Linked DNA regions of Homo sapiens: regions 1, 2, 4, 5 and 6 are each linked to region 3. Evidence: fine-mapped expression QTL. A gene starts in region 3. Each other region holds a variant in brackets. All regions are shown on one strand. Distances are between the middles of the regions. Region 1 holds the start of LOC105376314 (a long non-coding RNA gene). Region 2 overlaps LOC101448202 (a long non-coding RNA gene). Region 3 holds the start of OLFM1 (olfactomedin 1). Region 4 has its middle 66 kb from the start of FCN1. Region 5 holds the start of FCN1 (ficolin 1). Region 6 has its middle 39 kb from the start of FCN1.

What was found.
Region 1: its variant is fine-mapped to the expression of OLFM1 in whole blood (TOPMed, PIP 0.97).
Region 2: its variant is fine-mapped to the expression of OLFM1 in ovary (GTEx, PIP above 0.99).
Region 4: its variant is fine-mapped to the expression of OLFM1 in whole blood (TOPMed, PIP above 0.99).
Region 5: its variant is fine-mapped to the expression of OLFM1 in whole blood (TOPMed, PIP above 0.99). The same link has a PIP of 0.9 or more in T cells and blood mononuclear cells.
Region 6: its variant is fine-mapped to the expression of OLFM1 in whole blood (INTERVAL, PIP above 0.99).

What each region holds. Positions count from the first base shown.
Region 1 is chr9:134,932,291-134,937,101 of GRCh38, reverse strand. LOC105376314 (a long non-coding RNA gene) reads right to left here and starts at 578. Exons shown (of 4, transcript NR_188683.1): 1 at 529-578. LOC124902302 (a long non-coding RNA gene) reads left to right here. Exons shown (of 2, transcript XR_007061846.1): 2 at 1-312. RefSeq lists an enhancer at 4,006-4,065. The variant G/C (reference allele first, on the strand shown) is at 2,225.
Region 2 is chr9:134,857,993-134,862,803 of GRCh38, reverse strand. All of the region lies in intron 1 of LOC101448202 (a long non-coding RNA gene), which reads left to right. Among named protein-coding and RNA genes, the nearest start is that of MIR3689F, 9.6 kb to the right of the region's middle. RefSeq lists enhancers at 4,231-4,520, 4,811. The variant T/A (reference allele first, on the strand shown) is at 2,110.
Region 3 is chr9:135,085,471-135,090,281 of GRCh38, reverse strand. OLFM1 (olfactomedin 1) reads right to left here and starts at 2,614. Exons shown (of 6, transcript NM_001282611.2): 1 at 2,143-2,614; 2 at 1-87. The coding sequence starts at 2,292. RefSeq lists enhancers at 350-1,153, 1,154-1,958, 2,593-3,453, 3,454-4,314.
Region 4 is chr9:134,981,233-134,986,043 of GRCh38, reverse strand. No RefSeq gene overlaps it. Among named protein-coding and RNA genes, the nearest start is that of FCN1, 66 kb to the right of the region's middle. RefSeq lists enhancers at 2,377-2,965, 2,966-3,556. The variant G/A (reference allele first, on the strand shown) is at 2,764.
Region 5 is chr9:134,915,406-134,920,216 of GRCh38, reverse strand. FCN1 (ficolin 1) reads left to right here and starts at 2,305. Exons shown (of 9, transcript NM_002003.5): 1 at 2,305-2,448; 2 at 3,756-3,869. The coding sequence starts at 2,346. The variant G/T (reference allele first, on the strand shown) is at 2,378.
Region 6 is chr9:134,954,265-134,959,075 of GRCh38, reverse strand. No RefSeq gene overlaps it. Among named protein-coding and RNA genes, the nearest start is that of FCN1, 39 kb to the right of the region's middle. The variant C/T (reference allele first, on the strand shown) is at 2,839.

The sequences.
Region 1 (4,811 bases), 150 kb after region 3:
GACTTCTAGGGGTGGGGGGCTGTGGTAGCAAATACAGAGTGTGTATTACCCCAGCGTTAACCACGCAACTCCTAGCCTGGAACACTTAAAAGAGGAACCTGCCACCCTCCATGAGGCTGGAGAATCAGCGGGAGTTTCCAAAAGGCAGCTTTGGTTTAAACCACAAGATAATGGAGGGATTTGCATTTTGCTGAAGAAACCCCAAAGTGCCCTCCGACATTGTTTCAGTTCTGATTTTTTGTTCCTTTTTGAACGTCTCCTCTTGAAGCAATTTCTGGCCAAATCACACAAATAAAGAGCTAGAGAAACGGGTTACAGCTCGCTTCCCCAACTTGTTAATTAGGTTTGGAAATGTCTAGAGGGACTTGAACTTCAGTGACCAACCACCCTGGTTTGCCCTGGGGACATGGGACTGTCATTGCTAATACTAGGACAGTTCCAGGCAAACCGATGGGATGGTCAGCCTGCCTGCACCCTGGTCATTGTCTTCACCCATTGTTCCCTCATAAAGGTTGATAAGCACCTCACCTTTTGTAGTTGGTGGAGTCGCTGCTCCACCCCTCCTTTCCCTCGGCTGTGATGACTGGCAGGTGACTAGCCAATCAGATTCTTCCCTAGGATTCTTCGTTGGGGATTGGTGGATCACATCCTCACTTGCCCCCCTAACTCACAGAGTATGATGGAGGTGACTTAATGGTGACCATGGCTGGCTGGGCTCTCTCTGCCTCTGAGAGAGCGCTCCTCTGTAGAAGGAGAGAAAGAACCCAGGCAGGGACAGTGTGTGTACGTGTGTGGGTGCGTGCATGTGCGTGTGTGAGCCTGCAAACCCACGTGCCCACCCCCAGCTGTCTCTTGTCACTGCCATGACCAGATCGGGGTGCTGGGAGGATGGAAGAAGCCGTGGTCCCGTGCTCTGCCCTCTACTGTAGCAGAGAACCCGCTACACAGAGGTGACTGTGCAGGGGTGAGGGAGGTGGCGGACAAGGTATTTATGTGCAATAAATATTTAATTCCACCCAGCGCTCCTCCCGTAGCAACGTGGATCCTAGATTAGTTTTATACATTCCACCCACATCACCATACCCTTCAGCAAGGTTGATCCTGTCCTAATGCGAGTTTAAAAATTAAATCCACTTCGATGAACAAATGTCCTTTGCAGCTTCATCCCATTCTTTTATGCAGAGTAAATATGTTTGCACAATGGCTCTGGGAACAGCGCTCCAGAGCGGATCACACACGCGTACAACCCGGCTCGCGGCCCTGACTCCATGCATTATATATGACAGTCCCAATCCAGTCTCGCCACCGTGCTGGGGAGCGGGCAGCAGCTTGTCAGCGCCTTTAAATCAAGCGCGAAGCAGATTGTGAGCTGGTTCTGGGGAACAAAAAGCAGTAAAATAATTTGGGATTTTGAGAACCATTAGTTTAACTTAGGTGAGAATACGTGCCTGGAGTTTTCTCATCTGTTCATAAGCTTTAAAAATATACACAAAGCTGAACAACAAAAACAACCACCACCAAAAAAACAGCAATTGCCCCTTCTCCAAAACCGACCCTGCTTCCCAGTTTGTTTTTCCCGGGTTTGTGGAAGGTGACAGTGACCTCTCTCCTACACAGAGCTGTCGGTGGAGGCTGGAGATTTGGTCGCGCCACCGTGTTCTAGGGTTTGGAGACTCAATTAAGATATTAAAAATAGGACTTGGGGCCAGCAGGGTGCTTCCGTGGAGCTGTCTTTGTTTATGTCTTCAGCAAGCGGCCTGTGAAAGCCCCTCCAGTCCCAGGGAGGCTGGAGAGTTCTAAAGGGGATTATCTGCCTCCCGGGGTATAAATTCCAGTTTACTCTGACACAAACTATTACCCTGCAAACACTGGCCATCCGTCTTCAGGTGCCCGGCAGATACTCGGCGCCGGTGCTATTATCTCTGGGAAATTAAAGTGGGCCGCAGGGTGAGGGATGCTTACTGCTGGAGCCCCAGGTTCCTCTGCCTCAAGGCCGACGCTGACCTCCAAATAGTCCCAAGCATGAATTGGTTTGTCTCTCTGGGTGGTGATGCCCGACGTCCTCACTCTCACCCTCTGCTCCTTCGTAAGGGTTGATAAGCACCTCACCTTTTCTAGCTGGTAGGGGGCTTTATAAAGGGCAATGTTGCTGCTGCCAGCCCAGGGGTCTGAGCAAGGAGGAGGTGACAGTGCTGGGACAGAGGAAAGGGGAAGGAGAAAAGAA[G/C]GAAGGAAGAGGGGAGAGGAAGAAAAGACCATGTTGCATAGCAGAGCAGGGCCTGTCCCACCCTGCTATCCTGGGCTAGAGAAAATCCCCCCTTTAAAGTATTCAGAGTCAGGCTCCCTTCCTCACCATCTAAGAACCCCTGGGCCTGGGTGCTGGGGGAGGCCCACTCGGTACCTTCATCCCAGCACTCTTTGTCCAACGTAAAGGCTTTGTTGAGATGTAAATCACAGACCATAGAATTCACCCTTTTATTTTATTTTATTTTATTTATTTTTTAAAGACAGATTCTAACCCCGTTGCCCAGTCTGGAGTGCAGTGGTGTGATGTCAGCTCACTGCCACCTCCACCCCCCGGGTTCAAGCAATTCTCCTGCCTCAGCCTCCCCAGTAGCTAAGGTTACAGGCATGCGCCAACACGCCTGGCTAATTTTTGTATTTTTAGTAGAAATGGGGTTTCACCATGTTGGCCAAACTGGTCTCAACCTCCTGGCCTCAAGTGATCCACCCACCTCGGCCTCCCAAAGTGCAGGGATTACAGGCGGGAGCCGCTGCGCCTGGCGGAATTCGCCCTTTTAAAGTGCACAGGTTTTCTGTATAGTTACAGGATCGTGCAGCCATCATCATATTCTAGTTTTAGGACATTTTCATCACCTTAAAAGAAACCCTGGACCCTTTGGCTGTTACCCCCCTGCCACCCTTCTTCTCATCCCCTGGCCACAAGGAATGTTCTCTCTGTCTGTCAATCGGCCCATTGTGGCGATTTCCCGTCAGTGGAATCCTGGGCTGTGTGGCCTGGCTTCTCATGTGGGGCATGTTAGGAGGGCTTGCCCTGTTGTTGCCTGGACCCATGCTCCCTGCCTTCCGTGGCTCACTCTTGTTGCCCTCTGCTCCCTCATAAGGGCTGATAAGCACCTCACCTTTTGTAGCTGGTAGGGGGCTTTATAAAGGGCAATGTTGCTGCCAGCCCAGGGATCTGGGCAGGGAGGAGGTGACAGCACGGGGACAGAGGAAACGGGGAAGGACTCTCCCCTCTGTGGGGAGACCACACTGTGTTCATCCCTTTCTGTTGAGGGTACCTGGGTCACCTCCACCTTTTGGGGATTGTGAAGTGTGCTACTATGAACGTGCTTGTGCGGGGGTTTGTGTGGAGGCCTGTTTCATTTCTCTTGGGTATATTCCCAAGGTTGCTGCTGGGGGCTGTTGGAGGAGCTGCCAGCCTGTTTCTACCACAGCTGCCCCATCTCACATTCCCACGTCCTAAGCATGTTATTGGTCGGCTTTGCCTTGAGCACTGGAACAAACCACCCTGTTGGCAGGTGTGCCTTTTGCTGAACCCATTCTCTACAGATGTTAGGATCTCTTACTGCAAAGGAGATCCTGACACAAGAGCCGGGGGACCCTTGCCTGCCCATGAGGCCTGAGTAGTGGCAGGGTCACCAGCTGACGGCGACAGTGACTCCTGGAATTGGAAGACGGAGCCAGCGGGGCAGGGTGGGGGGTCAGGGGGTGGAGAGGAGAGTCAGCTTCAGCAGAGAAGGCTCTGAAAGGTCATCTGGTCTCAATGGTTGGAGTCCGTCCTGTTGCAGAGCTTGCTCAAAGCTGTACTGGAGCCCTGGCTTCTCGCCCACCCTTTCCCTGGCCTGGGCTGCCACTGGGCACTGCAGCCTGGACTATCTGGAGTCAGGGAGTTTATCTGGCAGGAGGCACCCATCCTCCAGAGGGGCCTGCCATCAGGTGCCCTCTGGAGAGGCTACCAGGGGCAGGGAACTGGGTCTGCTGGGTCGGCTTTTGCCTTTCAAACTTGGTAGCCACCCCCCAGTCACTCCAGGAAGAGGAAGAAGACACCTCTGAGGCTGGAGGAAAGAAATCGGGCAGAATTTACTCCCTTGCTACCAGAACTCTATGAATACCTGGCCTGTTTGTTCAAGCAGGCTTGAGCTCTGCTACCTGTGTCCCTGGTGTGCTGTGAATGGAGCACGAGACATAACACCAAGCAGGACCCATGGGGCTCTGCAGGGGAGAAGACAGACCAGGTTGTGTGTGTGTGTGTGTGTGTGTGCACTCATGTGTGCGTTCGTGCACGTGTGTAAAGAATGAGTTCTTACCACTCTAGACAATGGAGAACTAGTTTTTCTGGGCTTCGTTTTTAGTGAGTCATTGACTTCTTCCTAATCAAATGATCTATGTAGAAAAACACCAGTAGGACTGACAGATACATGGCCTATTTCTGCTAGACATATTGGGCCTACAGAAGTCCAAACCATTTCTTTTCCCCAGCAATGCCAATTAGAAAATATAATTCTGAAAAAGATGCCATTCACCACAGGAACAGAATTCATTAAGTATCTAGGAATCAACCAAAAATGTCCACTCTGATACAAGATGTGGAAGACAGTCTGAAGACGGGCAGGGCTCTGCGCGCTCCACACTCTCAGAAGCAGCGGCCTGATGTCAGGACAATGCCGAGTGTCTCCAGACGAACCCACAAATTCAACGCAATCGCAATCAAGAGTGCTTGTGGAGCTCAGCAGTGATGGAGGAGTTAAGGTCCTCAGATGGCTAGCTCAACATTAGAAAAGAAGGGCAAA
Region 2 (4,811 bases), 230 kb after region 3:
TTTGAATCGATCTTTTTTAAAAAACGAAGTAATTCACAGAGTGATCTCTGTGCGAGAAATAAAAGTAAGCAATAAAATACCGTGGAGGGAACCACCCACATCACCGGGACCAGGCACAGGTCGGCTGCGGGACCTCTGAGGGCTTTTTTGCTAAGGATGAGAAAACGGGGTCCACAGAGCTCTCTATGGGTCTACAGATGCTCCTGCCCCACCCCCAGCCTCCCTATGGATGCTCTATAGTAGCATTCCCTGCGCCAGCACACAGGGATTTGGCTTCCAACTATTGTGGTCTCATAAGTACAAGAGAAAAAGGGCTTGTGTTTAATAAACACCTACTATGTGCCAGGTACTGTTTTATGCCCTGTGGTGCAGTAGGGAACAGAAAGACTGGTCCTTGTGCTCTAGAAACCTGTTCTATTGAGGGCAAACAGAAAATAAACAACTAGACAAACAAATGAATGCATAATTATAATATCAGATCATATATCTCAAGAAAGCAATGTGGGCTGCAAAGTAAATACGAGTAGAGAGTATTATTAAGGAAAAGCAAACTGAAACAGCTATCTCAGTGGCTACACACACACGCACACACACACATGCGCACACACACGGACATGCACATGTAGGCACACACACACATACACACACACATGCACGCAGACATGCACACACACACGGACATGCACATGCATGCACACATACACGCGCACACACACACATGCACGCACACACACACACGTTTATTTGTTGCTGTCATAAAAGTACAGGGTAAGTGCCCCTGGCCAGACACCTCTCCTTCCACAGTGATTCCAGGTCCCCAGCTTCTTCTAGCATGTGGCTTTTCCACGTTCCATATGTGGCCCCTGTCCTGAGGTGGGTCTCCACTCCAGCCACTTGGAACTGGAAGAGAGCATGGGGGTGCCCGTGGCAGGGGCTTCTGGTGACTCCCTGGTGCCTAATGGTGATGGAGCACCTCCCTTCCACCTGTTGCCCCTCGGCCCCACCTGAACCACAGCTGGGTGACTGCAAGGAACACTAGGGAACGCAGCCTGGTTGTGTGACTGGGAACAGGAAACAGTGGTTGCTGAGCACGCAGGAAAATGAACTGAGGCTATCTGTAGGGTACGTCGCAAGGTCACTGTTTGTGTGGTGTGTGTTTCTCTATTCATTTGCTTTCATCCTGTTTGTCCCTGCAAGTGCCTTCTTGTAAACAGCGAGTCACTGGATCCTTCTTTTAAAAAAAAAAAAAATCCATCCTGACAACCTGTGCCTTCTGAGTGTTTAGTTGATTTACGTTTAATGTAATTATCGATATGGTTCTGTTAGGGGTACCATCTTGCTATTTATTTCATATCCTATCTTTGTTCTATCTTACCTATCTTGCCTTGAGCTGGTCAAGCATGTTTTAGTACTTCATTCTCTCTCCTCTGTTGGCTTTTTATTTATTTATTTATTTATTTATTTATTTTCATTTGTTTATTTATTTTGAGATGGAGTCTCACTCCGTCACCCAGGCTGGAGTGCAGTGGTGCCATCTTGGCTCGCTGCAACCTCTGCCTCCCTGGTTTAAGTGATTCTCATGCCTCAGCCTCCCAAGTAGCTGGGACTACAGGCACAGCCACCATGTATTTTTAGTAGAGATGGGGTTTCACCATGTTGGCCAGGCTGGTCTAGAACTCCTAACCTTCACCCGCCTCAGCCTCCCAAAGTGCTAGGATTACAGGTGTGAGCCACCACACCGTTTAAAGGAAAATCTTAAAAATAACCGGAGAAGAAGAAAAAAGGAAAAATTAATCAGAAGGGTAAACGACTTCTCATCATAAAAGGAGAAGATAATGAAAGAACATTTCTAAGTTGCTGCAAGACAAAAATTCTTAACTTAGAATTGTAACTAGATGATTCAAAAATGAAGGTGAAATGAGACTTTTTTCAGTTGAGTGAAAGCTGAGAGAATTTGTTGCCAGCAGATCCATACCCCCAGCAACGCTGAAGGGAGGTCTACAGCTCGGGGAGGTGTTACCAGATGGAAACGCTGATCCGTAGGGAAGGTGGAAGAACAGTGGAAGTGGAAGGTCTGAGCGAGACTCCGTCTCAAAAAACAAAAAAGGT[T/A]TTCCCTTGACCTTTTGTTTTTGGCAGTACGCCTTGGTGCGATTTTTTCTTTGTGTTTATCCTGCTAGGGTTTGCTTTTTTTTTTCCTCCCCAAAACGGAATTTCACTCTTGTTGCCCAGGCCGGAGTGCAGTGGCGTGATCTCGGCTCACTGCAACCTCTGCCTCCCAGGTTCAGGCGATTCTCCTGCCTCAGCCTCCCGAGTAGCTGGGATTACTGGCATGCATCACCACGCCTGGCTAATTTTGTATTTTTAGTAGAGACAGGGTTTCACCATGTTGGTCAGGCTGGTCTTGAACTCCTAACCTCAGATGATCCACCCGTCTCAGCCTCCCAAAGTGCTGGGATAACAGGCGTGAGCCATCGTGCCCGGCCTCCTGCTAGGGTTTCATCGAGATCTTAGATATGCAGGTTCATGCTCTTGATCAGATTTAGAAAGTTTTGGCCAGTATTTCTTGAACGATTCTTCTGCCTCATCTTCCCTCTCCCTTCTTTGGACTGCAATTGCACTCTCTCAGTTTGCTCACTACCTTCCCAGTGAAGACGGAGGCTTTGTGCACTTGTTCTAGAAACTTTATTTTCCATGCCTCAACTTTGGTATCTATGTCACATGTAAAAATGTTTATGTAGAAACAGAATGCTTGTTCCCCAGTGCTGCAAAGAAATAGCATTTGAACATAAATTTAATCCTCTCAGCAAGGCCTTTTGTACTTTCTGCAGAAAGAGTGCTCATCGCAGATGGAATAATGGCGAGAGCACATCCGAACAAAGGAGGGAAGCAATTTTTATTCCTTACGCAGTTTGTCCCTGCTGCTGTGTCCTGTCTCCATTGGCAGGAGCCAGACCTTACAATCTAAACTAAAACCTGATTGGCTAACAGTTTAAAACTTTTTTAAATAGGTAAAAGTAATGGAAAGACAAAGGAAAAGAGGAATTTGCTTATGAAAGGACTTAGAAAAGTAATAACATTTCCAAATAAGGAAGGGGCATGGGCTGCGAGCTGGGACATGCCTGTGAGCACTTCCAGCACAGATATTTTGGTTAAAGTACAAGGACATAGAATGTACTACATGCCTGTGAGCATGTCTAGCATAAAGCTAGTCTTTAAAAGAAACTATTATTTCTAATACTTATGATTTATTCTTTAATAAGAAGGGAAACTTTGAAGAGGAACTTTTTTACTTTCTACATCTATCAACACTTCTTTGTATTCCCTGATCCTTCCTTATATTCCCCATCTGATAAATGTTTAATTTTACATATCAAAATTTTTACTTTTAATATTTATACTTTGCTTGTCATTAGATTTCTGTATCTCTTTTGAAATCCTCCATTTCTCCACTCATTACATCTAAATTTTCTTGCATACAAATTAACATATTTATTCTACTTATTTAAATAATTTGCAAATTTCAGCGTCTGAACACTCATTCATTCATTTCCATTGATTTTTTTTTCCTTTTGATTATGGATTACATTTTCCTTCTTCACTTCCATGTCTAGTAAGTCTTGATTCTGTGCAAAGCATCGTGAATGCTATGTCATAGAATTCTGAATTCTGTACCCTCTCTCAGACAAAGCTGAGCTTTGTGCCAGCAGGCAGGCAAGTTGCTGGAAGATCACTTTTGATTATGTGGATGCTTGGCTTTAGACTTTGTTAGAAGGCTTCTGTGTTGTCCTTAATCCTAAGGTAAAAGCTTTAGTTCTGGAATATGGTGCTTATATAATGCTTAAGCATTGGGTCTCAATGGAAAGCCTGATTTGCCAAATTCATTAAAGTGTGGGGCTTGAACTCCAGTTGTCTCCTCAGCCCTGGGGAGCCGCTGGAATCTCTGCTCAGCCGTGCCAGCCTTCCAGCAGCTTCTCCCCAGCAGGTTCATTGGAGTCTATGTCAATTTGGTATTTTGGAATCCAGGTGACTAAGGGCCAGGGAATCCGGGCAGCCTGCCATGGGCTTTTAGCTACCAGTTCTGAGGGGCTCACTGTTTCTCTGTGAGTCTTGCCCATGGCACTTTGGTGAGGAGAGAAGGTGCCAGGAGGGAGGCCACATCTCTGCATGTTGACACCAGGAGGCAGGCAAGGCTATGAACACGTTCTGTCAGCAGATGCTGGGGCTTCCCCACATGACTCCCTCGTTTTCAGAATTTCTCACCCCAGTCCCAGCCACTCCGGTCGCCTCAATCTCTGGCAGCAAGTCCTCAGCCTCATCGTGACTCTGCATTGCCTTCCAATAGTTGTATTTTCGTAGGTTTTCCAGAGTATTTTTGTTCACAGGAGAGTTAATCTAATGTAAGCTTCTCTCAACTGTCAGATGCTAGAAGTCTGAGGCGTGAGTTGTTGTTTTTTTTTAACTTTTAGTTCCACAAAAGCTCTCTGAAAAGGTGACATTTGAGTCAAGAACTGAAAAACATGAGTCAGATATGCAATATTTGGGGTAAAGTCTTACATAAAGGAAAAAGTCTTGGCGGATCTGAGACACAGGAAGGGGGCCAGGGTGTCAGAGAGCAGAAGATGGGGTGAGGAGTGGTGGGAGCCAGCGTGGAAGGTGTTGACTGTATAGGTGGCCTGGGGTCCCCTCCTGCACCAAGTGGGGTGGCAGTGAGCAGGGTGACTGTCGTCTATGCTTTCCCCCATGTTCTTACTATTTCTCTAGACTGCTGAAGCCGCCTCTGTGCCTCCTGGGTCTACCTTCCACACCAAATG
Region 3 (4,811 bases):
AGCGACCACTGTGCAGATACACCTGCCCTCGCTGTCCTGGGCAGAGCTGTACACCTGCCAGCTCTCCTCAGGGTTGGTGGGCAGCACCTGGAGAGGGGCGGGGCGGGAAGGGAGAGGGAAGGAGAGAAAGGGAGACCATGAGGTTGTGTATCAGAGCCAACAACCAGGGGAAACTGTCCACATCCACCCCCAAGGAAAAGATGGGAGGAAATGGTCCCAAGACATGTTTGACCCAAAGGGAAGAAAGGGTCCCTGGGAACAAAGAGGCACAGGTCTCCTGTTAGGGGGCTCAGGGCTGGAAGGATGTCAAAGAGGCAAGACCCTTTACGTTCTTAAAATTTAAGTTCAACTCAAGGGATGTCTGGAGTTTGTCGTCTGGCCAAATTGATCTGCTGGGTGGATGGGAGGGGCAACTGGAGGCCACAGGCTGGACTAGGAGCAAGGCAGGAAAGCAAACGCTGGGTGGCTTGCAGCGGGCACGTATTTCAGAAACAGGATATCCTTCCCGTAAGTCAAGCACGGGTGGCTGGCACCACCAAGCCTCGCCCTGCCGTTCCCTGACACTTGCAGACGAAGCACCCACTGTAACAGCCCCAGATCCAGCAGCCTATTCGCCCAGAGCTGTGATGAACCCCGAGCTACAGCAACCTCCCAGCCGGCAGCGTGGCACAGACCGACCCGAGAAAACACTAGGTTTCCAGCTCCTTGTGGGCTCCCCCCACGAGCCATTTGGTGGAGGTCGCCAAATTGCTGGTGACATGCTGTGCAGGGGTCACCCCCAACCTCAGTCCTGAGGTTTGCCCAAAGATCACCAAAGAAACCGGAGCTGCCCATGTCTGGTCTAACCTTGCAGCCCAGCCCTGCCAGGTACCGGGGCGGGCACTCCTGAGCCTACACAGCTCCATCCTGCTGCTGGCCCTACTGTCTCTGAGCACGCTCCCCTCCGGTGGCATCAGGTCATCTCTCTGCTATTTTTAGCATGAAGATGGGGAGGAGAAGTTGGGCGGGTAGAATCTATAGTAGTCATATCTTTAATCTCATTCATTCCCAACCCCAGAAGATCGGGACCGGCAGGCCGGAACAAAGTCATCATGGAGGAATCGCCCTCCGATTCCTGAAGGAGCAGGGAGGGCGGCCTCAAGAGGGGTCTTAGGAGGGAGCCACACCACGGAGCCCTCTTCGCAGGGCACTAAACCCCTGGCAGCAAAAAGAGAGAGGGAGGGAGACTCACGTCCTTCACCTCTCCTTTCAGCCTAAAGGGCCAGTGGTCTGGGGCGCGCCTTCCCGGCAGCGGCCCCTTCCCCGCGCGGCCCTCCGGGTGGCGGTTTCAGCTCAGCCTCGCTCAGCCATCTAAGTCAGCTCTGCCCAGAAGCAGCCCCGGCCACGGTTCCCCTCCCGCTAGGCTCGAGAGGGAGACGCGATTTCAATTTCAGAGGCCAGGAGGGAGGGGTGCGCGCAGAAGACGAAGGCAAAGGCGAGGGGGTGAGCGCCCAAGGGCAGGCTCCCAGGGGCCCCACCCAAGCCCCTCGGCACCGTCCTCGGAGGAGAAGGAACAAACCCTCCTATGGACTGGGGAGGAAAGGGCGCCTTGGGACTTTGGGAATGCAGGCGCGGGCAGGAGCTCCGGAGCCCACCGGCTGGGGCCCCACTCCCAGCCCGGTCCGGCCAGTCTGGCTTTTACAAACTAGGGCGGGCTCAGTCCCCGCTGGACCGAGCCCAGACTAGGGTCTAGCGGCGGCTCCACCCCTCACTCGCTGAGTGTGACCTTGGACAAGTCCCCAAGTCCCCAGCCTTAGTTTCCTAACCTTTTCAATGGGGGGCTCATGATTACTGACCCAGGACTCCAAGCCTCCGAGAACCCACCAAGCTCCCCCGGCCCCGCGGCGAGGGGCCCAGACGAAGGAAACGCCGCCCCAGGGGCGCGCGGGCGGAGATGGAGTGGCCCAGGCTGGGGGAGCGGGGAGCAGGGTCGCCACCGCTGCGCCGGCCCGCGACGCCTGCCCTTGCCCGCCCTGCTCCCCGCCGCCTCCCTGGGCGACTCGGGTCCCGCGCGGCGCCCGCCCAGCCCGGGGCTCCGGACCGAGGAGGGGGAGGAGGAGGAGGAGGAGGAGCCGCGCCAAGGCGGCCGGCGGGCGCACTTACGCCGGTGCTGCGGTCCAGCGTCCCGCCGCCGGCCGCCGAGAGCTTGGTGGTGTTGAGGCCCACCAGCGAGGGCAGCGTCTGGGACATCCAGTTAGTGATCATGGCCATGGTGCTCAGCACGACCCCGATCTTGAGCAGCGGCACCGACATCGCGCCTCGAGCTGCCTCCAGCGCCCGCTCCGAGCTGGCACCGGCTCCCGCGCCCAGGCGGCCTTCAGGCGGCGGGCACCGCGGCGGGCAGGGGCGCCTGGCTGTGTCCCCGCGCCCCCTCGGCCCGCCGCCGCCCGCCCGCCGCCGCCGCCGCCCCGCGCGCCCCGGCCATCGCCGCGCCTTCCCCGGGCGCCAGGGAAGGTGGCCAGGTGGCCTCTGCCCGCCGCGCCCTGCGCCTCGCGCCGCCCGCCCTGCGCCCTGCCTTGCCCGGCTGCGTCCCTCCGGGCTCCTCCGCCGCCACCGGGAAGCGCCGTCCGGCTCTGAGCGCTGCGCGGGCTGCGCGCGGGGGCCGCGGCCGGGAGGCGGGGCTCGGCCGGGCGGGACCGACGCAATCCGCCCAGGAAATGGGTGGATTTTTCCTCTCGCTCGGCTCCCCGCCGCCCCCTGGCTGCTGGCAGCGAGGTCTGCAAACTCCAGTCCGCCCAGGAGTTGGGATCAGGGTGACATGAGGAGACGGACACACCACCACCCCCAGATCATAAAATACCCGGCGGCGGCGCGGGGACTCCAGCTGGGGGCACGGCCCGCGGCCCTCCCGTCCCGGGGCTTCTCCCATCCTCACGCCGGGGCATCCCTCTCCGATCCCCGCAGAGGGTCCGCTTTGGGGCAAAGGTTGCCGGCAGAGAGACGGCGCCGTCCTGCCTACTGGAGCCCTTTTCCGCGGTGATTCGAGGGTCCCAGCCAGCCTGGGCCGTCGCCTGAAACCCAGCAGGCAGGGCAGGCTCCGAAAAGCAGCCAGACTCGCGAGGGCCTCCAGCGCCAGGGGGGCGTCGGGGCATCGGTGGAGAGCTAAAGGCGCCCCTGCGATCCCAGGGCAGCCGCGGTGCCCTAAGGCCTTGCTTGGGAGGAAGGGAGCCAACCGGCACTCCTGACACCTGCACAGCAAGGCGGGGGCTGGGGTGGTCTGCCGTGGCCCGCGGTGCGCAGTGAGGGCCCTGGGAGGGCGCACACCCGGCAGGAGCTGCATAAGGTCTGGGGCTCAGGCCTGGACCTCAGGAGCTGAAGGGACCACGCCCATGAACCTGGTGTTGGGGAGGTGGGTGTGTGGGGCGGGGACTGGGGTCTGTGGTGGAGGGGTGTGGGTTGGGGGGTGTCCTTACTGACTCAGGGGTGGCGCTCGAGTCATGGCGCCCAGGCACAGAGGCAGGGCAAGTGGCGCACGCTGCCCCTCTTCCCGGCCCTCTGCGGCGACCGCAGCAGGACTCACGCGTGTCAGTCCCACCTGAAGCGCAGGCCTGACTGGGTCAAACACGTTAATAGGGCTTTTGCATTTACAGAAGGCTTCTAATCGGAGATGAAAGCCACTTCCTCCGGGGCCTTCCATTAAGCTTTCCCAGCCATTTGGGAAGGAAAGAATCCTCCAGATCACTCACTACACTCTTCTCTGCCTGGGCGAAAATTAATCTCCCTTCCTGGATGGGATTTGAAAGACGGACGCCGGGCCGGAAGGAGCGCGCCTCCCTGGCGCCCGCCTGAGAGGAACAACGCCTTCCTGGGGCTTTTCTCTCTGTGTGCGCAGTCCTCGGCTGAAGAGACTTCAGCTGCAGCCAAGATGATCCTGGCCTGAGTGCTGGGTGTGAGACCCGCTAGTTAAATGAGCCCCTCAGATCTGCTTTTCTGATTAATGCTGTAATCTCAGGCAGCCGGGCTGGGTCGGATGCCAGGAAATTCCAACTGTTGGGGAAGGGCGCCATCTCCCAGTGTAAGCTGGGACTGCAGGCCCGGCTCACAGACTGGGCCCAGGCGGAGACACAAGTCCGGTTGGGCTGGCTTCGCCCCCCTCCTCTGGCCATGCATGTTTAACACCGATTCAAGGCCACAAGCCGTGTCTGTCCAGATCACTCACGCCGCTTCCCGCTGCGGAAGGACAAGGACCACTTGTTCTGCGGGAACAAATTCAAATGCAACCCAATCCAATCCACAAAACTGTCAGGCCATCTCAGAAGCCATAGACATTTATTTATTTAACGAAGTAAAAGATTAACCTGCACTTGGACTGCTCTAACCTGCACCTGAGCGGCTCCAACCTGCACCTGAGCGGCTCCAACCTGCACCTGCTCCAAACTGTCCTGTCCAGTTTCTAAAATCTGTGATTCAGTGGGCATAATGGTTTTGAAAGGGTCGTCAGATAAGGCTTGAGTAAGTGTAATTGGATTTAGAAGGCCATGGAGCATTCCAGAAGGAAAGTATGGATCGTTGAAGAATGAAGGCATTTGGATTAGGGGATCCATGGCGCCAGGCAATACCAAGTGTTCCTAAAGAGGACTTTCAATCCCAATTTCTTCACGACTTCTCTTAAAGCCAGGGCTCATCACACCTGCAGCTCTGAACAATCATACGGATGCTGATGGGGCAGGTGCTGCGCCCCTGGTGGCACTGGGGCTTTGCCATGCCTGGCACCCAATCCTTACTGAAGTGCATGGTGTGGTGGCATTGACTCCACTGTATAGATGAGGAAT
Region 4 (4,811 bases), 100 kb after region 3:
GCCATCCATGCAAACAATTCCACACCATAGGAAGACCTCAGTGGTCCAGACATCAGCCTCAAAGAGGGACATTCCTGAGACTCTGACCTGACCACATTCTCAGAAATGGAACAAATATCAAAGGGAAGGCTCAGGGCACCCGCGGCCATGGGAAATGGGATAATGAGCCACAGGCCAGGGGACTCGGAAGGCAGGAGACCTGGATCTCATAGGCATAGAGTGGCATTCAGGAGAGGGCTTTGGTGGCAGCTTCCACATTTTATATCAACATGGAAACTAAGTCCAGGCAGTAGAGGACTTTCTCAAGGTCACAAAGAAAGGTGGTGGCTAAGCGAGAACTGGAATCCCGGTGGTTCCTAGCCAGGGCTTTGCGGTCAGTGACCTGGTAGAAAGCTGAGTTTGCTGTTCATGACGGAGGCTCTTGCTTGCTGCCAGCCAAGTGAATGAGAAGGTGGCCGTGGGGATCAGACACCAAGAAGTGTGATTGGCAGACGCCAAAGGGCATAAGAGATTCCCCAGAATTAACGTTAGGGTCTGTCCACAGTGTGACTCTGGATAGAAGGGATGTCATACCTATTAGTCCCCAGGAAGATGTTTGTGGAGTAAATGAACAAAAGAAAGAAATGAATCAAGGTCTTGTTTGCACTTGTGCTAGTGTGTCTGCTGCTGGATTGAGTGTGTTAAATATTCAACTTCACCGAGCCAGCATGACACCTGTATATGCCGTTCTTACTACCATCTCGGTTCAGGACTTCTCCTCCACCTGTAACATCCCAGCGGGCAGTCTCTTCTCGTGCACTCAGTGATGGGGACTCACCCCCAAGGAGGCAGCAGAGGAAGGCGGGGGCTCAGCAGGTCTATGTAGGATTTGGCACATCCTTCAAAACCAGGGCACTGGAAGCTAGACACAAGCTGCAAGATGTGGCAGCCGAACCCAACCTTAATGTCCTTGCCCCATCTCATGGCAGATGGCCAGAGGTCTGTCTGTTGTTGGCCACAGATGGACTCAAATGATCCCCAGGGCACTGTGGTAGACACGGAGATGGGCCCCAGACACCCTCTGCACACATGGCCTCACTGCCCAGCTGCAGGGAACAGTCAGCCCACAGTCTCAGCCATCGGCATCTTCTGAGCCAGCCTGGGCTGCCAAGAGCTGCCCCACTGAGCCCACACCCTTCCTGGGGAGCCATTCCATGGGATATTCCAATGAGGACCGTGTACCCCAGAGCTCCCTACCAGGTGGGCCAGAGGCTTTTCAGGTTGCACACAGCATCGTTCTGCCTGGTCCTGCCTCCGCTACTTCCAGGCGTTGGACCTCCTGGACGTCCTGCTCCCAGACTCCACCGTGGCCTCTGCTTCTGGAGAGCCCAACCTAGACAGACCCCACTTCTACTTGGGGCTCCAGTCGGCCCCTGGCTTGCATTCGTGAAGCATCCTGAATTTTTTTCACCCTGACCTCTGCTTCTCTGTGGCTCCGTGGCTGGTCCTGGTTCCCCATTCCCAAGGCTGTTCCGTGGCCGGGTCTGGGAAGGAAGGACACCCCTGCTGCAGTTCGAGTATCAGCAGCAGCAGGAGCCCTGTGGGACCTGCGCTGTGGGACCCACCCCGTGGTGATACTGTGATGGAGGCGGCCTCTCCGTCCGCTCCCCCGCCTCAGCCTCAGAACTGGCATCCAAGTGCTGCTTGCATGACTTTCCTGTAGCTGCTGGAACAGAGTGCCACACCCTTGGGGGCTTCAAACTACACACATTTATTTTCTTACAGTTCTGGAAGTCAAAGGTCTAAACCAAGGTGCCAATGGGGCTGGCTCCTCCTGGAAGCTTCAGGGGAGAACCCCTTCCTGCCTCTCCTGCTTCTAGAGGCCTCCTGCATTCCTTGGCTCGTAGCCCCTTCCTCTACCTTCAAAGCTGGGAACATCACGTGAAAGTTGTCAGAATCAAAATAGAGTCACTTGTGTCAAACCCTAACAAAAAAAAAAAGTCAAGAGGCTAAGAAGGGCCCTCCCTGCCCCACACACCTGCCGGCGGTAAGAACTATCATAAAGGCTCTCTGAAGGGCTCTTATCTACATATGCCTGTAGCAAGAACTTTTCCGAAGGACTTTCCAAACTGCCACTTGCTATCTGAGTCACAGGGACAGCTGGTCGGATGCACAAGAACCCTTGCCTGACACGCTGTCTCCATCTCCAGGCATGAACTGACGTCAACTCTCACAACAAGACTCTGTGACCAGGGTTCTCTTTGCTTCAAAACAACTTATGTGCATGCCTCCCTTTGCCTTTAAAAGCTTCCCCTTGCCTCAACCTCCTTGCACATGCCTGTGGTCCCCACAGCCCTCGTAGCCAGGACAGGAACCCCGCCTATGCACTCCTGGATACACTCAGCATCACTGGACGAGCTGTCTCTGTTGCTTAGGTTGACAGTGGCATCTTCGACTCTCGCGTTGACCTCTGCTTCTGTGGTCATATCCTTTCTGACTTGGACCCTCCTGCCTCCCTCTCATAAGGACTCTTGTGGCTCATGGGGCCACCCAGATAATCCAGGATAAGCCCCCATCCCAGGGCTCTTCACCTAATCCCACCTGCAGGGTCCCTTTTGCCATGCCAGGGAACATACTCACAGGCTCTGGGTTTAGGGTGTGGACATACTTGGAGCCGTTATTCAGCCCACCTGAGTGCCTTATTTAGGGAGGGACAGGAAGGGCCGAGTGGCAGATAATCGGGTCAGATCCTGCGGGCTCTGTGGGTAGCCGCCGGCAGGTGGC[G/A]GTAACTGACCTCAGGCCACACTTGGACTTGCATAAAGCTATGGGTCAAGTTCCTCCGGGTGAAGTGCAGTCCCCACCCCCGCCCCCTGTGCTCAGGGTCCTTTGCGCCTGCTATTCCTGTGCACGCAGAGAAAACTGCCCCTCGGGCCTTCGCGTGGCTGTCCTTCCCCACTCCAGCAGGGCTCTGTTCCAGCGTCAGGATCTCTCCACCGCACGTCCAAAGTGCGGCCCACTCGTCGCCCCTTCACCCTGGCCTGTCCCTCTCAGCAAATGATCATCTCTGTGTTTACTGTGTGTCCTCGGTAGAACATAAGCTGCCCAAGGACAAACAGGGTGTGTTTTGTTCATGGCTCTTTTCCAGGGGCTACAGGAGCAATACAGGCATTTAGTGGGTGTCGTGGGGTTGAACTCTGTCCCCCAGAAAGATATGGGGAAGTCCTAGTTCCCAATACCTGCAAAAGAGACCTCATTTGCAAACAGGGTCTTTCAGGTGTAGTCAGGTTGAGATGAGGTTGTACTGAGGGGGGGTGGCCTTAGGAGGGGAAGGGGGTTCCGGAGACACACGCGGAAGATGGCAGCAGAGACTGGGGTGACGCCCCACTGACCTGGATGTTGAGCTCCCGGCCTCTGGGCAGCAAGGGAAGGAATTCCTGGGGGTTGAAGGCCCCTCATTCATGGTCTTTTGCTACAACAGCCCTGGGAAAGGAACAAGGCAGGATTCGGCTGTTTGTGAGGACGCACAGTCCAAGGCACCAGCACGAGGGTGCTGGCTGCGGACGGCTATCCTGAGCCTCTCCTGGCCTAGCCAGCCTGACTCTCCAGCCACAGCCCACCCAGCCCTGATGTGCAGGATTCCTTCGTTCTGCTGTAAAGATGGGGGCACCCTTCCACTTCAGTGGAATCTTTGAGCAGCTGCCTGTCATTTAAATAATTTCTCTTAATTTTTTAAAAAAGATAAATTTAAACATTTAGATAATTTAAAAGAAAACGCAGCTCCTACTGCCCTCCTTGTATAACCACCATCCTCTCACTGTCCGTCCTCCCCGTGGAATGATCATTATCTCGCCATCCTTCCTCCCTGTATAACCATCATCGTCCTCCCGCCGTCCCTCCTCCCAGTGTAGCCATCATAACCCTCTCGCTGTCCCTCCTCTCTGTATAGCCATCATCCTCTTGCCATCCCTCCTCCCTGTATAACCATCATCCTCTCGCCGTCCCTCCTCCCTGTGTAACCATCATCTTCCTCTCGCCATCCTTCCTGCCTGTATAGCCATCATCCTGTCGCCATCCCTTCTCCCTGTATAACCATCCCTCCTCCCTGTGTAACCATCATCATCCTCTTGCCGTCCCTCCTCCCTGTGTAACCATCATCATCCTTTTGCCGTCCCTCCTCCCTGTGTAACCATCATCTTCCTCTCACCATCCCTCCTCCCTGTGTAACCATCATCATCCTCTTGCCGTCCCTCCTCCCTGTGTAACCATCATCATCCTCTTGCCGTCCCTCCTCCCTGTGTAACCATCATCTTCCTCTCACCATCCCTCCTCCCTGTATAACCATCATCTTCCTCTCACCATCCCTCCTACCTGTATAGCCATCATCATCTCGCCATCCCGCTTGTGTAACCATCATTATCCTCTAGCCATCCCTCCTCCCTGTATAAGCATCATCTTCCTCTTACGATCCCTCCTCTCTGTATAACCGTCGTCCTCTCGCTGTCGCTCCTCCCTGTGTAGCCATCATCCTCTCACCATCCCTCCTCCCTGTATAACCATCATCTTCCTCTCGCCATCCCTCCTCCCTGTGTAACCATCATCCTCTTGCCGTCCCTTCTCCCTGTATAACCATCATCCTGTCGCCATCCCACCTCCCTGTATAACCATTATTCTCTCACTGGCCCTCCTCCCTGTATAATCATCATTCTCCCTGTATAACCATCCTCCCACGGAGGGACCAGCATGGTTTGTGGTGAGCCTTTGTGGGCAGGCAACTGACTGGCACAGATTCCCTCCGTGACCCACTGCGAGCCTGGGCTGAGCCCCGTCTCAAC
Region 5 (4,811 bases), 170 kb after region 3:
TTAGAAGCACAATTGATTTTTGCTAAACTTTTTATTCTGCTAGTTTATCTGTAGAAACTCTAGAATTTTCTACATCCTCAATCATGTCTTCTGAAAATAACAACTTTGTGTCTGCCTTTCCAATCTTTTTATGGTTTTGTTCTCTTGCCTACTGCACTGGACAGTGACATGCAATACAATGTTGACCACAGTGGTGATGACAAGCATCCTTATTTGTTCTCAGTCTCTGAGGATGGTTTTCCATTTTTCCTGTTAATTATGTTGTAACTTCTGTATCCACAGCTTCCAAAGACCTCTTTCTATATTCTGTTGTTTCTGTTGGTCCTTATACACATTGTCTTTTATTCCCATGAGCCTGGTTATCGTTGATTGTGTTTTAACATTTCATTTGAAAAAAATAAAACACTTTGCAGAAATAATGACCTGGGATGATGTCATTCTCCTTCAGAGAAGATTTTTGTTTCTTTCAGCAAGGAGCCTGGGGGCATGAGCAATAATTCCAGGAGTTGAGATTCCTTTCCTGGGACACTTAGATGTCTCAAAACCAGTTTGCAGCCCTTGTGAATGTTGGTTGTTGCTCACTCATCCTATTGCTAGGGTGCAGCCCTTCTGAAAGCCAACCCCAAACCCATACCTTTGGCAGGCCGTAGGCCCCAGTCTTTGACCTTCAGCTCTGCAAGATGGTGAAATCACTGCCCAACTTCTCACCTCTCTTTTGGAGATTGGCAAATCCCTGTGCAAAAAGAGGTCCCCACTACTAGTTTCACTTCTCTAAGATTTCTGTGGCTCCTGAGAGCTTGGCAAAGTAATCCTTTACTACATAGCTAGCTTGACGGTGCCTTCGAGCAAATCTCTTTTTAAAGGTTTTGTCTGTTTGTCCTTAATAGGATGCCCCCAAATACCTAAACTGCCATTGCCAGGAATCAAATGACTTTTGTTGATCCAATGTTAAGATATTTTAACTTGCCAGAATCTTGCATTCTTTCATACTCTTGGGAACATTGACTTGATATCTGAAGGTGGTGTTGACTTCTCACCTGAAATAAACCTATTGATGTTGCAAGGAAGAGGAGGTCCCCTCACACCCAGGGGGCAGCTGGCAAATGGAATTGAGGGGCACAGACCTGCTGGCTTTCTCCCTGTTCTGACCCAATCCCAGGTGAGTGCTGCTCCTGAATTGGATCCTCTCCAAGAAAGGAGGCCGCACCACTGACACCCAGACCTCTCCCGCCTGGGCCAGTAGCTCAGGGACACTAAGCGGTGTCTGAGGCAATGAAGCCTCCTGCCGTTGTCTCTCAACAGGCTGGAGCCAACACACACAAACACACACAGTCGAGAGTCGTTGTGGTGCCCAGAGAGCCTGGACACAAGGTCCTGTGTCTCCTGGATCCCCCACCCCTGGGCCGCCCCTCCACTTCTCTCCCACCTGGGGAGCCCTTGAGTTTGGAAACCCAGTCTACACACGCTGGCTCAGAGAAGTTGCAAACCACAAAACAACACCTCTCCCTGCTCCTTAGTCCTGCTACCATCTGACTCTCGTTAGTGACTATTTCTATACGTTCTAAAAATCCCGCACAAAGTGTCCACAGCGTGGCCTGGCTAAGCATGATTCACAGCACGAGATGCGGAGTAGGAACATGGCCTCAGGGATTTGGGGGAACAAGAGGCATCCCCACCTTCAGGTGAAATGAGCAATCCCAGTGATCTACAAGGCGTTAGACAGAATTGAGTCCAATGCCTGGCTCTTACTAGTGGAGTGACTTCAATTTCTCCAGCTGTAACTTTCAAATAATTTACTCCACCGAATGGGGCTGGTGCAAGATGATATGATGGAAATAGTATTTGGGACATAACAAGTGCTCAACATTTTTTTCCTCTCCATCCATGATAAGTGCCTGATGACGGACAAACCCTGAATTTTCTGGGAACAGATGAGGCAAGGAAGCGTCTTCAGCAAAACCTTCCTTATCCCCCAAGGTTAAGGTCAAGGTTTCCGAGTATTGCTTGGGGACAGCTGGGGAATGGAAAGGGGGTGTGGGGGCTGTGTTCTCCTTAAGCCACAAGCAAAGCCGATGCTTTCCAGCAGAGGAGTCTCAGGAGCTCTCTGGACTGGGAGCAGGGTGTCTTTGCTGGGGGAAGAGAGCCCAATGGGGTGGGCATCTTGCTGGAGCCTAGTGGAAGGAAACATCCTTTGAGATGACCTCATACCTCCTGTTGGTGCAACTAAGCAGCCCATAGGAAGTGGGTGTCCCCCAGGGAGTTGAGAAACTGTGGCACAAGGCGAGAGCTGGTTTCCTCTGCCCTGTTAGAGCTGGGGGACTCTTCAGAGTCAAAGGCCAGAGAGCATGGAGCTGAGTGGAGCCACCATGGCCCGGGG[G/T]CTCGCTGTCCTGCTAGTCTTGTTCCTGCATATCAAGAACCTGCCTGCCCAGGCTGCGGACACATGTCCAGGTGAGACAGACCTGGGTTTTCTGGTCCCTAAAAGCTGGTAACAACCCCACTCACTGACACTCGGGTGTCCCAGGCAAAACCTTTTATGCACATCTTCCTGTGAAGATGCCCAACAGATCTGTTTTATCCTCAGGCAAGGACATGGAGGCTCAGGGCAGCTGAGGCATTGCCCAGGGTCATGGAGGGATAGGGGAGGGATGTCACCAGGTCTGTCTGCCTCGAAAGCCCAGGATTTGCCCATTGGAGCTTCATAGGTGGGTCTGGAATCTGTCACTGAGAAGGAAGAAAATACTGTTGACTTTATCTTCTTACGGGCTTACCAGGGAGGCACTCTAAGACCCTCTAATACGGTGGCTGCCACACGGACTTGGGGGGTTTGTTAAAAAGGCAGATTTCTGGCTCTCCTCCAAGAGAGTCGGAATCAGTTGATAGGGACAAGGGTTTGAACGGTGGTAAGGTGTTTCCCTCACTGATTCAGGAGCAGGTGGTTCTGTGACGCTCAGCAAGAGACTGCTCCTAAGGACGGCCTGGTGCCCCTGGCTGATAACATATTTATGAAGGAAACATAAATAGTAAATTACAGCCTGCTCTAGTGGAAGGAGGACTGGAAACACAGAAAGGAAATACCCCAAAAATGGCAGTGCCATGTCTCCGGTGAGAGCACTGCTCCGTTCCATGGTCTCTAAGAGCGCCCTTAGCAGGGCGTGTAGATTTTGTAATGAACAAAATGAAAAATATTTTTTCAAAGAAGTAAACAACTTTGGTTTGGCTGCAGCTGTGCCACACCTGGCTCTGTGTCCTTGGACCCCACACTGCCCCTCTCCAGAGGACCTAGAAAGCCCCTTCCAGCCCAGTAATTCTACAACCACATTCCCAAGGTCTGGGAGGGAAAATGCTTTGTCAGCCCCAATTCCCCAAGTTTCTTAGAAATATTGATTGTCATTAGTTATTGAAAGTGCCCGCTGTTTATTAAGCTCTTTCTAAATGCCATAAATTACAATAAGAGATTTAAAATGCACATTCTTTAACCAAATCCTGGCCGCAACCTTGTTATTATCCCCGCTTGGCAGCCCAGGGCACAAAGCTCAGAGGAGTTAAGTTACTTGCTGCAGGACACACAGCACTGAGGAGATGGGGCTCCCCTAGGTCGGGGTGGCCTCCAAAGCCAGAGCTCTGCCCCCCATCACATCTCCGCCTCACCAGTGCCTGAGGGGTGAGGACAGACCAAGGCCCCAGCAGAGCAGAAAACCTCACTTCCCAGCCACTGTTGGGCCAGGCACTGAGTGGGCACCTGTGTTTCTCTGCAGAGGTGAAGGTGGTGGGCCTGGAGGGCTCTGACAAGCTCACCATTCTCCGAGGCTGCCCGGGGCTGCCCGGGGCCCCAGGGCCAAAGGGAGAGGCAGGTGTCATTGGAGAGAGAGGTAGGTGCGGGCCGGGTGGGGAGGCCAGGCATGGCAGGGGCACTGGCTCTTGCTCTTTATGAAACTGGATGCAGAGTTGGGCAACACCCCCACCGTGGTTCCTAGATCAAGAGCCTGGGTCAGGCCCCTGCTAGAGCCAGGAACAGAGCTGACTCCCAGGGCCCAACAGGGTTCTGAAATGGAGGGAGGGTCTTTCCTAACTATTTCATGAGCTCACATTTGGACATGCTTCTGTAGCTCTGTCTCCTAGTCCTTGATCCAATACCAGCTTTGCTCAGCTACTGGCACGACTTCTAAGCTCTGTGTCCCTCCACCTTCTCACCTGAAAATTGAGGTGACCGCTTTCTTCTGCACCTGCCTCATATGGGAAAACTGAGACTCAAAGAGGTCACAGGCTTTCCTACTTGACAAACCAGTAAGGAGTGGGGCTGGGACTTGGACTGGTCTACTTCAGGGCACAGAGGGCACCCGAATCCTGAGCCCTGAGCTCTGCATGTGGATTTGCAGGGAACATGGGAGAATGAACAGCAGGCACCTGCCTTGGGTGGTTTTGGGTCCCCCTAAGCATGGCATAAGGCAGACGTGCACAAAAACTCAGAAAGGGCGCTGCCTTAGGGGGTGAGCTCCCCATGCCTGGACGCATTCAAGATGATGCCTGCGGAGCACTTGGTGGGGATGTCCCAGTGTAGATGGGACAAGCTCAAATGTCCCTATGACTTGGACTTTCACTGACGTGTCTAGGCTTCCGTGTGGGTGTCCGGGGCCAGGTCCTCTGTGCCCACTCCGCAGGCTGGACCTGAGAGTGCGGTCCCGATCCCCTGCTGAGGGAACACTGGGGAGGAAGACCTTCCCTGGCAGGAGAAGAATCAAGTCTGGCTCAGACTTCCCTTGAACCAGGCTTCTACCAGTGGGCATGGCTGGCTAATATACCCTAAAGCAAGA
Region 6 (4,811 bases), 130 kb after region 3:
TGAGGTGTAACAGTCACAAGTTCTTATTCCGTATTTAGCTGTGAATCTGTCAGTAGATGTGAACCACACTTCTCCTCCCTCTTCCATTTCTCTGCATCCAACATACGTTGCATTGATAGTAGTGACCTTCTCTCTCAGCAGGCTGGGCGGCCTCTAAGATGGGCCCATGACCCCTCCTCTCTGTATCTATGGCCCTGTGTAATCCCCTCCCCTGGAATGTGGGCTGGACATAGTACCTCAATCCAAAGAATGGACAGAATACAACAAAAGCGAAGGGTTATCACTTCCAAGATTAGAGGTTAAGTCACAAAAAGACCATGACTTCCATCTTGCATGCAGTATCTTGCTTTCTCTCTCTTTTGCAGCTCTTTTTCTGAAAGAAGCAGGCTGCCACATCATGAGTAGCCCCACAGAGTGGCCTGCATGGCAGAAAGCTGCTGACACAAACCAACAGCCATGCACGCAAGCGTGGAAGATGATACCATCCCAGTCCAGTCTTCAGATGAGATCACTGCCTTGGCTGGAAGCTTCACTGAGGCCTAGCGAGGAACTGTGAGCCACAGGCAGCCAGTTTAGCGATGCCCAGACTCTTGTCCACAGAAGAGGTGAGATCATGCACATTTATTGTTTTAGGCCTCTGGATTTTGGGGTGATTTTTTATAGAGCAATAGATAACAAATATACTTGGCGTTTAGGCCACAGGATATCAGAAAGGGTGTGAGACTTAGCTGTAGGAGGAAGAGATGTCACCCAGGGGTGGAGGAAGGGGTTTTGTATCCTCTTCTGGGCAGAGTGTGTTTTCAGTTGTTCAGAGGATCATGCTTCATGCTAGGCATAAGCAAGGATTTTGCTGTTGTCTTTATTCAGGCATTAAGTGTGTCTAAGTGAGTCATATATGGTGCCAGGTTGACAAGGGGCAGACCGTGGTGGGTTTCTATTGCATCAGCCCACCCAAGCAGAACTGTACTGCCCAGAATGCCCTTTCCTACATAGCCCCTGGTCAGTTTGGCCCCAAGAGGCATGGTGCAGAATTGGGAAGGCGGGAAGCAGTGGCCATGTTCTTTTTGTGCCCAGAAGGTTGGAGCTGTTGCAGCCCTGCATGCTGTCACCTGTGGGCAGGCACCTTGCCAGTGTGCAGCAGGGGACCCACAGCAGCCCTGTTCCTGCCATAGTCTTCCATGAGTTCTTTAACTCCCAGGACAGGTGTGACATTTAGCACCTGATGAAGGGCCCCATCTTCTCCTGTGGGATCCCAGAATTAAAGCTGGGGACAGCAACAGGGAGACTGCCTTGCAGAGGACATCCGACCCGGCAGTTTCCAGGGCGCTCCTGCTGCCCAACCTGACATGCAGCTCTCCTGCCCCACCACCTGCTCTTCTGACCCTAGGCTGCCACACCAGGCACAGAAGCAAGAGCCTTCTTTGACTTATCAAACATGGGCAAATCCTACAATAAATCCCTCAGCCACATTTCCTGGTGGTTCTGCCTCTCTGATCAAAGCCTAATACAAACCTAATCCCCTTATAGTGAAGCCTTGTTCCCCTGCTCCCAAAGGATAAGAAAGAAGCTCTTTGTGGTTTGCAGCAGTTGCCAGGAGAATAGCAGCAATGTCTGTAGCCAGCCAGACTTTCCAGTGAGGGGATCACACAGGGACACCCACGAAACTCACAGACATTGGCGGTGCCGTTTCGGAAGCAGAGACCAAGCCCCTGTGCCCAGAGGGTTCTGTGCCCCGAGGGCTGGGCTCGGTGGCTGGAGCACCCATGTGTGCACATGCACAAACACACACAGACACACACAGAAATACACACAGACACAAATGCACACAGACACACATGACACAGACACAAACACACAGAGAAATACAGACACAAATGCACACAAACATGACATAGACACAGACACACACAGTAATACACGCAGACATAAATGCACACAGACACACAGAAATACACACAGACACAAATGCACACAGACACAAATGCACACAGACACACATTCACACAGACACAAACACACACAGAAATACACACAGACACAAATGCACACAAACATGACACAGACACACACAGAAAGACACACAGACACACATGCACACAGACACACAGAAATACACACAAATACACACAGAGATACACACAGACACGCAGAAATACACATACAAACAGAGATACACATGCAGACACACACAGAAACACACACAGACACACATGCACACGGACACCGAAATACACACAGAGATACACACACAGATATACACAGACACATACAGAGAGATACACACACACAAAGAGATGCAGACACAGATACACACACAGACACATACACAGAAATAGACACAGACACACACAGGGACATAGACACACACATACACACACACATCGACACATACATATGCACACAAATACACAGAAACACATGCACACACATGAATACACATGGACATACATACCTAGAAACCCAGAGACACACGTGCACAGAGACACACACATACACACACACATCGACACATACATATGCACACAAATACACAGAAACACATGCACACACGTGAATACACATGGACATACATACCTAGAAACCCAGAGACACACGTGCACAGAGACACACACATACACACAACACACGTGAACAGATAAACACACAGCTAGAGACACACACAGATGGAAAGGCTACTGCAGCCCCATTTAAAATTTTTAACACCATGCCAGGAAAAATGGCACCTCCAGCTGCATCTTCTAGACTCTTTCTTGTTCATTCTCTGAAGTTGTTGGAGGGGAAAAGGAGCTCAGGAAGTATTATTCCACCTTGCCATGGACCAGTGGTGAGGGTGAGCCC[C/T]ACCGTGGTGAAGGACTTCCCAGTGTGGTACAGTTTAAAAGGAGGTCCAAGTCGGGGGGCAGCGTGAAGACCACGTGCTGGAGGACATGCCTCCTGTAGGTGTGATGCCCCCGAAGTGGGCAGCCCCTCTCTTGCCAGTCTGGGCTGCCCTTTTACTGCCTCCTCACCTCCTGCCAGGGTGATGGCACAGATGTCCCTGGCCCAGGCCACAATCTCCTCCAGGTAGCTCCTTCCACAGCAAAGGCCAAGGGGAGGAGAGATGCTACCATGGCACAGAAGCACCCGGTAGCCCCTGGCTGACTGGCCAAGCTGGGACAAGCTGAGCCAGAGGGACAGGAGAGCCTGCCATTCTGCAATGTGGACTGCATCAGAGGAGGGGGCGCAGAGCTAGAGGTTTCCGGAGCCCTCCAGAGTGTAGATAGGAGTCACTGCAGGGCCCACAGCTGTCAGCTGAGCCCTGCCTTCCAAGAAAGTCTCACTTATCACTGCTCCAGGATCAAACTCATTCATAATTTGTGTGTGCACCTGCATTATTGATGCTCCATCTGAAAACCCTGTCCTGGATAGGGTATTATGAATCTAGAGACTGGTTAAAGACCAGACTGATGGAGAAAATACATATTTGTGCATTAATCATCACCTTCCTCTGACATGGTAGCTCCCACAGTGACAGAAACTTGGGTTTGGAGCCTCTATTGTCTGGCTGTAGCACCTGCCATGCCAGCCCCAGGCCCAAGGTCACATAGTGGGAGACAAGGGTGAGCATGGATTCTCCTTACTTCCTTACTCTGCCAGCTGCCTTCCCTCTGCTCTGAACTGCGGGACCTGAACTCAGACTCCAGGGCACTCTAAGCCATGGCTGCATGGTGGGGTCCCTGGTAATGCAAGTCTTCTGGACACACTCACTCAGCTGGGGAGAAGTTTGCCAAGTTCTGGCTCAGATGACTAGGAGAGATGGCTTGGCCTCCTCAAGCCCAGGCCCTGGCAGGGCAACCAAATGCATCTCCCTGAACCCACCAGGCTTAGGTGCCAGAGGACAGGATTTCTATGTCTTCTTCATTGTTTTTCCCCAGTGCCAAGTGCATAATAGGAGCTCAATAAATATTTATTGAATAAATAATCTTTGCATGAATTGTTATAAAATCTCTGCCAGAGTCAGTGCTACTCGCAGACTGTGTTTCTCTCTCCTGACACTTGGTGGTTGTTAAATCAGAAATCGTCCCCTATCTTCATCCATCCAGCCGTCCACCCAATGGCACACTTCTAAACGATTTGTGACAGCTACAGGTACAAACATAGGTGACATCTGAATACATTTTTGGGCATTTGCATAGGGGTTGTTCACTCCTAAGGTCTCACCCTAACGACTGTGTTGGAGGTTATTGTGCCACGGGGCCTTAGGCACAAAGGGCTCGGGTTTGGTGCTGAGATTCCAACTTTAGCTGATGCATTGACAGTAGCATAGGAAGCAGCTGGTGGGTTTTATTTGCAGCCTGGAGGGGTCAGCACAGAGGAGGGTGGAAGGCGAGCATGAAGGAACAAGAGAAAGCAAAGGACACTGGGGTTCATGGCTGTTCACGGGTCTGCTGAGAACGGAGGAGGGCTTTGCTTTGGCACCGTCTAAAAATACTCAGAGTGCTCGTGATGCCCACAGCTAACTTCATACTTAATTCAGAAGGACTGAAAAAGCTTTCTACCTCTGATCAGAAACATGACGAGGATGTCCCTTCTCCCCACTTCTATTCAACAATAGGGTTCTAGCAAAACCTAGTCAGGAAAAAGAAAAGATATCCACATAGGAAAGGAAAAACAATCTCAATTTGCAAATGAAATGATCTTCCTAAGAAATCCATGAAAAATACTCTTAGAACAAATAAACAAGTTCGGCAATGTGGCAGGATATAAGATTAATATACAAAAATCAATTTTATTTCTACACACTTGTGATGAAAAAGCCAAAAATGAAATTTAAA